Linked DNA regions of Homo sapiens: regions 1, 3 and 4 are each linked to region 2. Evidence: fine-mapped expression QTL. A gene starts in region 2. Each other region holds a variant in brackets. All regions are shown on one strand. Distances are from middle to middle.

Evidence for each region. PIP is the estimated chance that this variant, and not a neighbour inherited with it, causes the effect. A credible set is the group of variants that fine-mapping cannot tell apart.
Region 1: its variant is the best candidate, but not a certain one, in a credible set for the expression of PAIP2B in whole blood (TOPMed, PIP 0.76).
Region 3: its variant is the best candidate, but not a certain one, in a credible set for the expression of PAIP2B in whole blood (TOPMed, PIP 0.89).
Region 4: its variant is the best candidate, but not a certain one, in a credible set for the expression of PAIP2B in whole blood (TOPMed, PIP 0.59).

The regions. Positions count from the first base shown.
Region 1 is chr2:71,294,839-71,297,525 of GRCh38, forward strand. No RefSeq gene overlaps it. Among named protein-coding and RNA genes, the nearest start is that of ZNF638, 36 kb to the right of the region's middle. The variant G/A (reference allele first, on the strand shown) is at 1,147.
Region 2 is chr2:71,225,460-71,228,146 of GRCh38, forward strand. It overlaps PAIP2B (poly(A) binding protein interacting protein 2B), which reads right to left and starts at 1,644. Exons shown (of 4, transcript NM_020459.1): 1 at 1,469-1,644. RefSeq lists enhancers at 1,074-1,574, 1,790-1,929.
Region 3 is chr2:71,171,993-71,174,679 of GRCh38, forward strand. No RefSeq gene overlaps it. Among named protein-coding and RNA genes, the nearest start is that of MPHOSPH10, 43 kb to the left of the region's middle. The variant T/C (reference allele first, on the strand shown) is at 1,081.
Region 4 is chr2:71,279,985-71,282,671 of GRCh38, forward strand. No RefSeq gene overlaps it. Among named protein-coding and RNA genes, the nearest start is that of ZNF638, 50 kb to the right of the region's middle. The variant A/G (reference allele first, on the strand shown) is at 1,512.

The DNA.
Region 1 (2,687 bases), 69 kb after region 2:
CAATTTGTAATTTTCATTATACAAGTCTTTTACTTCCTTAAGTTTATTCGCACTAAGTATTTTATTCTTTTTGATGCTATTACAAATGGAATTGTTTTGAATTTCCTTCTCAGATTGTTCATTGCTATTGTATAGAAACCAACTTATTTTTGTGTTTTTCACCCTGCAACTTTACTGGATTTGTTTTTTAGTTCTCGTGGGGTTGTGTGTGTGTGTGTGTGCGTGTGTGTATAATCTTTAGGGTTTTCTACATATAAGACCATGTCATCTGTGAATAGAGATAATTTTACTTCTTTCTTTCCAATTTGGATGTCTTTTATTTCTTTTTTTTTTGCCTGATTACTCTGGCCAGAACTTCTAACGCTACGTTAAATAGAAGTGGCAAAAGTGAGGCCGGGCTTGGTGGCTCACATGTGTAATCCTAGCACTTTGGGAGGACGAGGCAGGCAGATTACATAAGCTCAGGAGTTCTAGACCAGCCTGGCCAACATGGCAAAACCCTGTCTCTACTAAAAATACAAAAATTAGCCAGGCATGATGGTGCACACCAGTAATCCCAGCTACTCTGGAGACTGAGGCATAAGAATCACTTGAACCTGGGAGGGAGAGGTTGCAGTGAGCCAAGATCGTGCTACTGGACTCCAGCGTAAGCAATAGAGTGAGACTACAACTCAAAAAAAAAAAAAAGTGTCTGAAGTGAGTATCGTTGTTTTATTCCTGATCTTAGTGGAAAAGCTTTCTGTTTTTCATAATTGAATATGATGTTAGCTGTGGGTTTTTTGTATCTGGCTTTTATTGTTTTGAGGCAGTTTCCTTCTATTCCTAGTTTGTTGAGTATTTTTATCATGAAAGGATGATGAATTTTAAATACTTTTATTGCATCAATTGAGATAATGTGGTTTTGTCCTTCTAATTCATTGTATGAAGCTAGGAATTACTTTTTTTTTTTTCTTTTTTGAGATGGAGTCTCACCCTGTTGCCCAGGCTGGAGTGCAATGACATGATCTCAGTTCCCTGCAACCTCTGCCTTCTGGGTTCAAGTGATTCTCCTGCCTCAGCTTCCCAAGTAGCTGGGACTACAGGCGTGCACCACCATGCCTGGCTAATTTTTATATTTTTAGTAGAGACGGGGGGTTTCACCATGTT[G/A]GCCAGGTTGGTCTCCAATTCCTGACCTCAGGTGATCCACCTGCCTCGGCCTCCCAAAGTGCTGGGATTACAGGCATGAGCCACTGCACCTGGCCTTTTATTCTAAAACTAGATAAAGAATACAAAAAAAAGTACAGACCAATATTCCTCATGAATGTAGATGCAAAAAATTACTAAATTATTGCCAGATTTAAGGCCAGTGTACAAAAATCAATTATTTTCCTATATTGTAGGAATAAGCAAAATAAATTTTGAAAAGGGATACTGTTTTCAAAAGCATCGTAAACATTAAATAATGTAACATAATATAGTCATAATATTAATGCAGAAAACCATACAATGTTATTGGGAGAAGGTAAAGAAGTTCTGAGTAATTAGAAGGATATACCATATTTTGTTGATTAGAAGTCTCAATATTGTAAAGATTTCACTTCTTAACAAATTGATTCACCGAGTCAATGCAGTCCCAACTCAAAATCCAGTAAGTTTTTTTTCTTTTTTTTTGAGAACTTGACAAGTTGATTCTAAAATGTATCTGGAAATGCAAAAGACCTAGAATAGCCCAGACAATCTTGAACAGTGGGAAGGCTAGCCATATTGGATATCAAGACTTAATATGGCCGGTCATGGTGGCCCACACCTGTAATCCCAGCATTTTAGTAGGCCAAGGTGGGAGGATTGCTTCCAGCCTTTTTTTTTTTTTTTACTAAAAAAAAAAAGAGAGAGACAACATGACACTGTAATTATTAAGAAAGTGTAATATTAATGGAAGAATAGAAAAATTGATCAAAAGACTAGAATAGAGAGTGCTGAAGCAGAATCACATATATCTGGACACTTCATGTATGAGCAAATTGACCCTAAAGAGAAGAAGGGAAATAATTAAATTTTTTTCAGTATGTGGCATGGAGACAATCAGATATTATTATTTTTAAAAGGAAGGAAAAAACATACAAAGTAAAAATCAAACCAAAGCTTGACCCAACGTCACACTATTAAAAAAAAAAAAAAAAAAGGCCGGGCACCGTGGCTCATGCCTGTAATCCCAGAACTTTGGGAGGCTGAGGCGGGCAGATCACCTGAAGTTGGGAGTTTGAGACCAGCCTGACCAACATGGAGAAACTCAGTCTCTACAAAAAATACAAAATTAGCTGGGCGTGGTGGTGCATACCTATAATCTGAGCTACTCAGGAGGCTGAGGCAGGATAACAGCTTGAACCCGGGAGGCGGAGGTTGCGGTGAGCCGAGATTGCGCCATTGCACTCTCCAGCCTGGGCAACGGGAGCAAAACTCCGTCTCAAAACAAAAAACAAAACAAAAAAGTTCCAGGTGGGTTGTGGTTTTAAATGTGAGCAGCAAAACAATGAAGTTCCTAGAAGATAATATATGAGAATATCTTCATAACCTTGGTATAAGAAGACTTTTAATAGGATGCAAATAATACTAACTATAAAGAGAAAGAAAAGCTAAATTGGACTACATCAAAATTCTTTCCTCACTGCCTCCCTCCCATCCTTTCTTCCTTCCATTAAGATTTTACC
Region 2 (2,687 bases):
GAAAGCTAGGAAAAACAATTCCAATTTTTGAAAAGTCAGGAAACTAAGCACTGTGAGAATTTACAAGATTTTGTAAACCTGTATATTCTCCCCACCCCGATATACAAGTAGCCAGAGGAGCCTATCAGTCTTACCCCAACACTTCAATCTCCTCCAACCTTCAAAATAAAACCCTCACTGTCCAATATCTGAATTTATATTTTCAAACGTCTAAAATCTTAATCAAAGCTAAGAGCAGTGCATTAGCTTTTCCCCATAAAATTGTTGGCATAATTTTACTTAGGCACAGCATAGTTTGTACTGTTATCAAAAAACATATGGCTAGAACCGACATTACTAGAAACCAAACGAATATACTATGAAGGTGAAAAGGGAACAGGGAATGTTGTTTTTGGACAGATTCAATGCTGTTATTATCCCTTCATAGGTTGGGTGTGATCGAATCACACTGTGCTGTACAACTAAGTATGTTCTATATTTTATGACAAAGTAGGGTAGCCAGGCCCTTACACTACAAACTCCCAGAAACCCCAGTTAAGCTGTTTAAAGTATAATCCAATTCAATTTACTGAAAATAATAGTAACAAAATTTAAATCCCTTGCTTCTAGTTAGCCCTTTTCAACTGCATTTTCAGCAATTACCACCAAAAGAACTGCATTAGGACAAAGATTCTAGAGCGGGTATAATGGTCAAATGCCATTTGAAGGCAAAAACAGTCTACCAGGAACAAAACATTAAAGTTCCCAACCTTGCCAAACTCCCTGTTCTGCGTATTCTGCCTCTCTCAGTTCACCTTCCAGCTGCCTGGAAGAGGCAAGTGGAAAATGTTAGTTTTCTGGAGAGATGAGAATGGAATTTAGGGGTTGGTAGGGGGTGATGGGCTCACTCACGGACCGCAAGGCACAAGAGAAGTGGCGAACGTCTCCCAGGCAAATGAGGCATGAAGAATGAGGGCTGGAGTCAAGGGGGAGATGGAGCAAGTATAAAAAGGCAGAGGACGCGCAGGGGCCGCGAATAGGGGAAGGGCACGACGCGCAATCCCTCCCGCTCCAGCCCGGGGAGAGGGGCGGGGGATGCCGCGCGGGTCAATTTGCCTAGCATTGTTGCACCTGGGTAGAAATGGGACTCAGGCCAAGAATTCGGTTCGAGTGTTAGGAGGACGCTGAGGGGAGTCAGGAACTTGGGTGGGAGTCGGGGGGAAACAGAGCACCTGTGCGGGGGGGAAAGGGACGAAAACCCCCTATTGCTCCCGAGGGGCAGGGGCTGACCCCAGCGGACGCCCCTTTTCGCCGATGGCCGCGACGTGGGACCCCGCGCGCTTTCCCTCCCTACAGGAGCTCGGGCAGGCGCGTGCCGCCCTTCACAGCCCCGACGGCGGCAGAAAGGGAGGCGCAGGGCGCCCCCAGAGCCGGGAGAACGGCGTTTCCCTCGAGTCCTTTCCCCAGCAGCCCGGGCACCCGAGCCCACCTGGGCTAACCAGAAGCCCCTCCTTCAGATCGTACTCTGCCACTCCTCCGAGAGCTTAAGCCGTTGCCGTAGAGGTCGCCGTCGCCACAACAGTCTCGGCCTTTAGTACCAAAACGTGAAGCACAGCACCCGAGAAGCGCCACTACCACTTGCCAGGTTATCTCTTACTGCACACTGCCTCCTCGCCCCGCCCCCGAACCCAAGCCATTGGTTGCCGGGCACCGCCCCATTCGTCTATTGGGCCAAAGAAGATGCCGTTCGGTCACCTAGAATGGCATATGTGGTTTTTATTGGTCTAAATGTGAAGCAGTGCCCGCCCACTCCCTCAGAAGTTTCAGCTTCTGATTGGTTTTAATGTCTGTCTTTTCTCTTCCTTCATTTTTTTTTTCCTGTGGTGGAACACCTCCTTGAGGGAGATGCCGGCTCTGATTGGCTGAAAGGACGCTACGCTAGCCTGGGATAGGCATTGGGCCAAGGATGCGCCCGGCCCACTCGTGGGGGAGGAGACCAAGGCGCCGCACTCTGGGTTTGTTTACACAGGCTCTTGCTCCCGCTTCGTCTATTGGCTGAGCTGGAAGCCACTGCCACCGAGTTTTGCCTGTCAGCCTAGCAAGGAGGAGGGTGGGGGTGGGCCTCAGTAGGATTTCCCTCAGCTGTCAATTACCAAAGGAGGAGCTTTGATTCAGGCTGCTTTGGACCTGGTGCTATTCTCTGTAGGGAAAATTAAGGAATTGGGCTCCTTGGGAGGCTGGAAGGAAGCAAAGGGACGCTGGAAGGAAGCAGACGGATGCTTCCACGTTTCTAGAAACAAACCTAACTTCTTGAGTGCTTTAAAAAAATAAAACTTGGCCGGGCGCGGTGGCTCACGCCTGTAATCCCACCACTCTGGGAGGCCGAGACGGGCGGATCACAAGGTCAGGAGTTCTAGACCAGCCTCGCCAGTATGGTGAAACCCCGTCTCTACTAAAAATGCAAAAATTAGCTGGGCGTGGTGGCGGGCTCCTGTAGTCCCAGCTACTCGGGAGGCTGAGGCAGGAGAATCACTTGAACCCGGGAGGCAGAGGTTGCAGTGAGCCAAGATCGCACCACTGCACTCCAATCTGGGCAATAGAGTGAGGTTGCGACTCAAAAAAAAATACATCAATAAATACAAATTAAAATAAAACTTTATTGCCTCCCTTGGATTTAGAATGTCCAATCTGCTTGCAAAGGACTTCGA
Region 3 (2,687 bases), 53 kb before region 2:
CATATAATTCCACTGCATGAATGTATCATAATTTATTTATCCGGTCCTTTTAAGTGGACATTTAGGTTTTTTGTTTTTTTTTTTTATCTTTTTCAGTTATGAACAGTGCTACAGTAAATGTCTTTTTCATATTTTTACGATGAGTTTTTAAAGCCAATGTACTAGAAGATGGAAGGAAGCAGGTTTCTTACCCATTCCATCTCGGACTGCATTTTTAGAGGAAATTGTGCTATCTGGAGAACCATATTTGGCTCAGAGGATCAGGAGTGCTTGGATCCTACCCTGGTCTAACTCTTCCCTCCCCTACAACTAGGCCAATGAGAGATGGAGAAAATAAACAAGGAACATCTCATTCTTAGAGGGGCTGAAAATCTAAGGCCATGCTCTCTGGAGGACACCCCTTCCCATAACCCAGGCTTTCTCTTTGACATTTTGGACTAGATAGACCTCTGTTCTGAGGGCTGTCCTGTGCACTGTAGCATGTTTAGTAGCATCCCTGACCTTGACCCACTAGATACCAGCAGCACCTTCTCCCTAGTTGTGACAATATCTCCTGGCTGAGACCTACTGCTCTAACCCAGCATGGACCTCAGAATCCTACCACCCATAGGCTGGCACAGGGGCAGGAGACTGAGGCCCCAGGAGTGCTTGGCCCAGAATAGGAATGGAAGTGAGATGACCAGGCTTTGCACACCAGGATCAGCCTGTCCTGCCATAGGAGGCTCATGGAGCCAGTGGTACCCCTGAGGGCCCCAAGTGCAGAGCCTTTTCATAGTTGTCCCCCTGCCCATTGGCAGACATGGCCGCGTGGCACCCTGGCATCTATCCAAACATATAGTGACCTCTGCATGAAGGATAGGGTGGGAAGCTGGGGGAGATCTGGAGGCTATATTCATACATGCGCAGCGCAAACCAGTGGAACTGCCTACCACAGGTGGCCTCCGTCAGAATCGGGACAGTAGATGTGAACTCTGCTTTCGTGTCAGGTTCTGAGGACAAAGCTGATAGAGTTGGCATTTTTTCCCCACACTTCTAGATCAGGCCATATTTGAATCCATGATCAGTCTGTATGTCTTTAAT[T/C]GACTTGAACCAGGGGTGATAGATAATCCACCCCCCATTTCCTTAGATGGTTGGTCTTCACTTTCCCCCTGGTTGGCTCATAGGAATTATGTAATTTTTTTTGTATTCATCTGATTTGTTGATGTGGGACACCAAGAGGGAGGAACTTGGCACTCAAACATTAAGGTGAATGTCACAAATAGAGGCCAGTGGAGGGTGGGAGGCTCCCGGGGAGGCATTGCCCAATGCAGGGCAAAGGTTACAATGTCAGGCTAAGGCTTTCTAATGAAGCTCCTGGTTGTCATGTGGTGGCAGAGGGGAGAGCTGAAATCAGGATTGTGAGGTGTGGCTGAAATGTCTGCTGTAGCTCCAGGTGAGAGAGGCCCAAGACTTAGGATGGCAACAAAATCTCCCAAGATCCAGCAAGCCAAGCAAGCTTCTACTTTCTTGATGTTCCCCCCAACCCGTAAATATCACAGCTTTTGCAAGCCACAGTGGCTCATGCCTATAATCCCAGCACTTTGGGAGGCTGAAGCAGGAGGATTGCTTGAGCCCAGGAGTTTGAGACAAACCTGGGCAACATGGTAAGACCCTGTCTCTACAATAAAAAATACAAAAATTAGCCGGGCATGGTGGCATACACCTATAGTCCCACCTACTCAGGAGGCTGAGGTGGGAGGATCACTTGAGCCCTCAAGGCAGAGGTTGCAGTGAGCTGAGATCGCACCACTACACTCCAGCCTGGGTGGTAGAGGGAGACCCTGTCTCAAACAACAACAGCAACAACAACAACAATAACAACAAAACATAGCACACAGCTTTTGAAAAGAGATGGCGTGACAAAGATCACAGAACAAAGGGTTAACAAAAGAACCGGCTTGGGCTGAATGTGGTGGCCCACGCCTGTAATCCCAGCACTTTGGGAGGCCAAGGTGGGCAGATCACCTGAGGTTAGGAGTTTGAGACCAGCCTGGCCAACATGGTGAAACCCCGTCTCTACTAAAAATACAAAAATTAGCCCAGCGTTGTGGCACACACCTGTAATCCCAGCTACTCTGGAGGCTGAGGCAGGAAAATCGCTTGAACCCAGGAGGCGGAGGTTGCAGTGAGCAGAATCTAGCCACTGCACTCCAGCCTGGGTGACAGAGCAAGACTCAAAAGAGGGCAAAGGAGGTACAGCTTTCAAATATTCAGACTTTTGCAATTGGAAAATTTAACAAAAAAGCCATTTTATTTTTAGCGTGCATATAAAAGTTGTGTGGTTTGTGGTTTTGCTTTTATTTTGAATTTCTTCCTGGGGAGAAGCACCAAAGCATCTTCAGTGCTTAGACCTGGAAAGGTCAACGTCCATCCTGGAGATCCAGTCACAACCACAGGACCACAGAAGGGCAGAGCTGGGAGGGCCTGTGGAGGTCACTCCATCCACCCACCCCACTCCCAGAACCGTACAGGCTGGGCAGTCCAGGCCAATTCAAGCATTCCCTTCTGGTTCTATCAAGAAAGTCTAGGAGGGGAGTGGAGAGCTGCAGAGGGGAAGGAGGGAGGGGATCAGAAGGAGGAGGAGGAGGAGCAGGAGGAGGAAGTAGAGGTGAAAGAGGAGGAGAGTGGTAGACTGACAGAAATTTTTG
Region 4 (2,687 bases), 55 kb after region 2:
AGACCAACCTGGCCAACACGGTGAAACCCCGTCTCTACTAAAAATACAAAAATTGGCTGGGCGTGGTAGTGCATGCCTGTAGTCCCAGCTACTCAGCTACTCGGGAGGCTGAGGCAGGAGAATCGTCTGAACCTGAGAGGTGGAGTTTGCAGTGAGCTGAGATCGCGCCAGTGTACTCCAGCCTGGGTGACAGAGTGAGTCTCTGTCTCAAAAAAAAGAGAAAACAGAAAAGATGGACCTTGAAGAGACAAAGAGTTTTCTTTGTGGTTGGGGTATTGGGTACAACACTCTTGCTGTGTGAAAAAGGAATCACTTAGAGTGCTTAAGCATGAGATAAGGGGTTGTAAAACCTTCTAGGCTAAATAATTAAATTATTTTAAAATTTTTACTTTAAAATCAAAGTAATACATGTACATGATTGAACAAATAAAGCAGTTCTTGAAGATTTACCACAAAAATACCAGACACTTGTTAATTTCTTTTTACTCTGTTTCTCTCCTTGAAGGCAAACACTTTGAAGTCCTTTAACTTTTTCTTCTAGTATTTACCTTTGTCTTTCTGAAAAAGTATACTTTATAACCACTTCTTGACTTAAATAGTTTAGGTATTACTTTTTTATAAATTAAGAATTGATAAAGTGAGGATTTAACTCTTTATTCTCTCTTTCTTCTGTATCCTTCTTCCATCCTCCCAATTTAGATTCTGTCATAATTTTTTGTTAAATTAGTAGTTAGGTTTTATATTATTATGACCAGGTAAACATGACTAGCCTTTGAGCCAAATGATAAACTAATTTACCTAATTTTCTTTCATCCCGTGGTTAATTTTTTCCAAATGCTGCAGTGCCATCAAATGGGCCAACAAATGTAAGGATTTACCAATGCCATTTTTTCCTTAAACTTCCTTCCTATAGCTTCCATTCTTCATACTCTAATCTGGTCTGGTTCTAAGTTTGTAACAAACCTAAAGATTAATGTATTTAAAGAGATAACAAAAGAGATTGCACCTACAAAATAAGAACAGGTCGCTATGAAAAGAAACCATAAGACAACAAGAAAGAGCTCTATGAAATTAAAAATATGATAGTCAAAATGAACTCTGAATAGAAGACCTAGAAGATAGAGTTGTCTAGGTTTGCATAGCTATAGTCCTGGGACTTTCCTTCACCTTTCTCCTGATTTGGACCTTCTGTTATCTAGATCATGAATCTGGTTTTCTTCATTTTGCTGAAACAATTAGTCCAGTTACTTTCTAAGAAAAGATAAATGTTCTAAGTCCTTGCATGTCTTAAAAATGTCTTTATTCTACCCTTGCATTTGAATTACAGTTTGGCTGATTTTAAAGTCTAAGTTTTTCCTCAGCATTTTAAAGGTTTAATTCTAGTGTGTCTGCTGTTAGTGTTGCTGTTAAGAAATCTGATATAATTAAGTTTCCTGTTTCTTTTTATATGGGTTGTTTTCCCTTTCTGAAAGCTTTTTAGTATAGTCTCTCTGGTTTTCTGAAAGTTTGTG[A/G]TTTTGTGTCATATTCACTGGTGTGATTCTTTTTTCATTTCTTGTGCTCTGCACTTGGTGGGCCGTTTTAACCTGAGGACCTCCCCCCGCTTTTTCCCCTAGTTTGATGAAATTTACTTTAATAATTTATTCCTTTCCATTTATTCTGTTCTCTTTTTCTTTAGTTGGATTTTAGACCACCTGGATTGATCCTTTAATTTTCTTATCATCTCTTCTATTTTTCATTTTTTTGTTTTTTTTTCACTTTCTCTGGATGATTTTTTTCAGCTATCTTCCTAACCCTTCTATTCAGTATTTCATTATGATCATCATATTTTTAATTTTGTAGAGCTGTTTGTTCTCTAATTGCTTCTTTTCAAAGCATCCTGCTTTTATGAGTGTCATATATTTTCATATCTTTTTAAAGATATTAATTCCAAGTTTTGTTTTTGGAGTTTTCTTTTGTTTCCTTGATTGTTTCTGCCTTTTGAAGTCTTTCTTCCTCTTTATTTGGCTTTTCAGTTTATTCAGGGAGACGCTTCCAGCCCTGTGCAGCATAGGCTGTAATCCTGGGAGTAGGGACAGGAAAGGGGAATGTGTTGAGAGTCCCCAAGGCCACCCTCAGGTTCAGCGATTTACTAGGAGGACATACAAGACTCAGCATATAGTCATACTCACAGCTATGGCTCATTGCAGTGAAAGGTTACAAAACAAAATTGGCAAAGGGAAAAGGTGCATGGAGTGAAGTCTGGGAGAAACCAGGCACAAGCTCCCTGGTCCTCTCTCAGTGGAGTTCCACAGGATGTGCTGAATGGTTGTGACCACACACGTGAAATGTTGTCTACCAGGGAAGCTCCTTAGACTCAGTGCGCAAGGTTATAACTGGGTGCAGGTTACATAGGCACCCTCTGCCTAGCGTTTACCATAATTCCACACTCCTAGAAGGAAATCAGGTGCTCAGCATAAACCACTATTCTTACATTTTTACACTGTTTAGGTACAGTGAGCCACTCACTGTTAGGGAATGGTGGGAACCTTCCTGAAATCAAAGTTACCAGACAGCAGCCATGGGCTAAGCTTGCAAGTAAGACTTTCAAAGCATAGTAGTCTCAGGCATGTTCTGTGAACTCTTCTGCACAGGAGCATAGGGCCCCACAGTTAATACATAGGCTTTCACTTATCCTTCTTCTGCTTCAT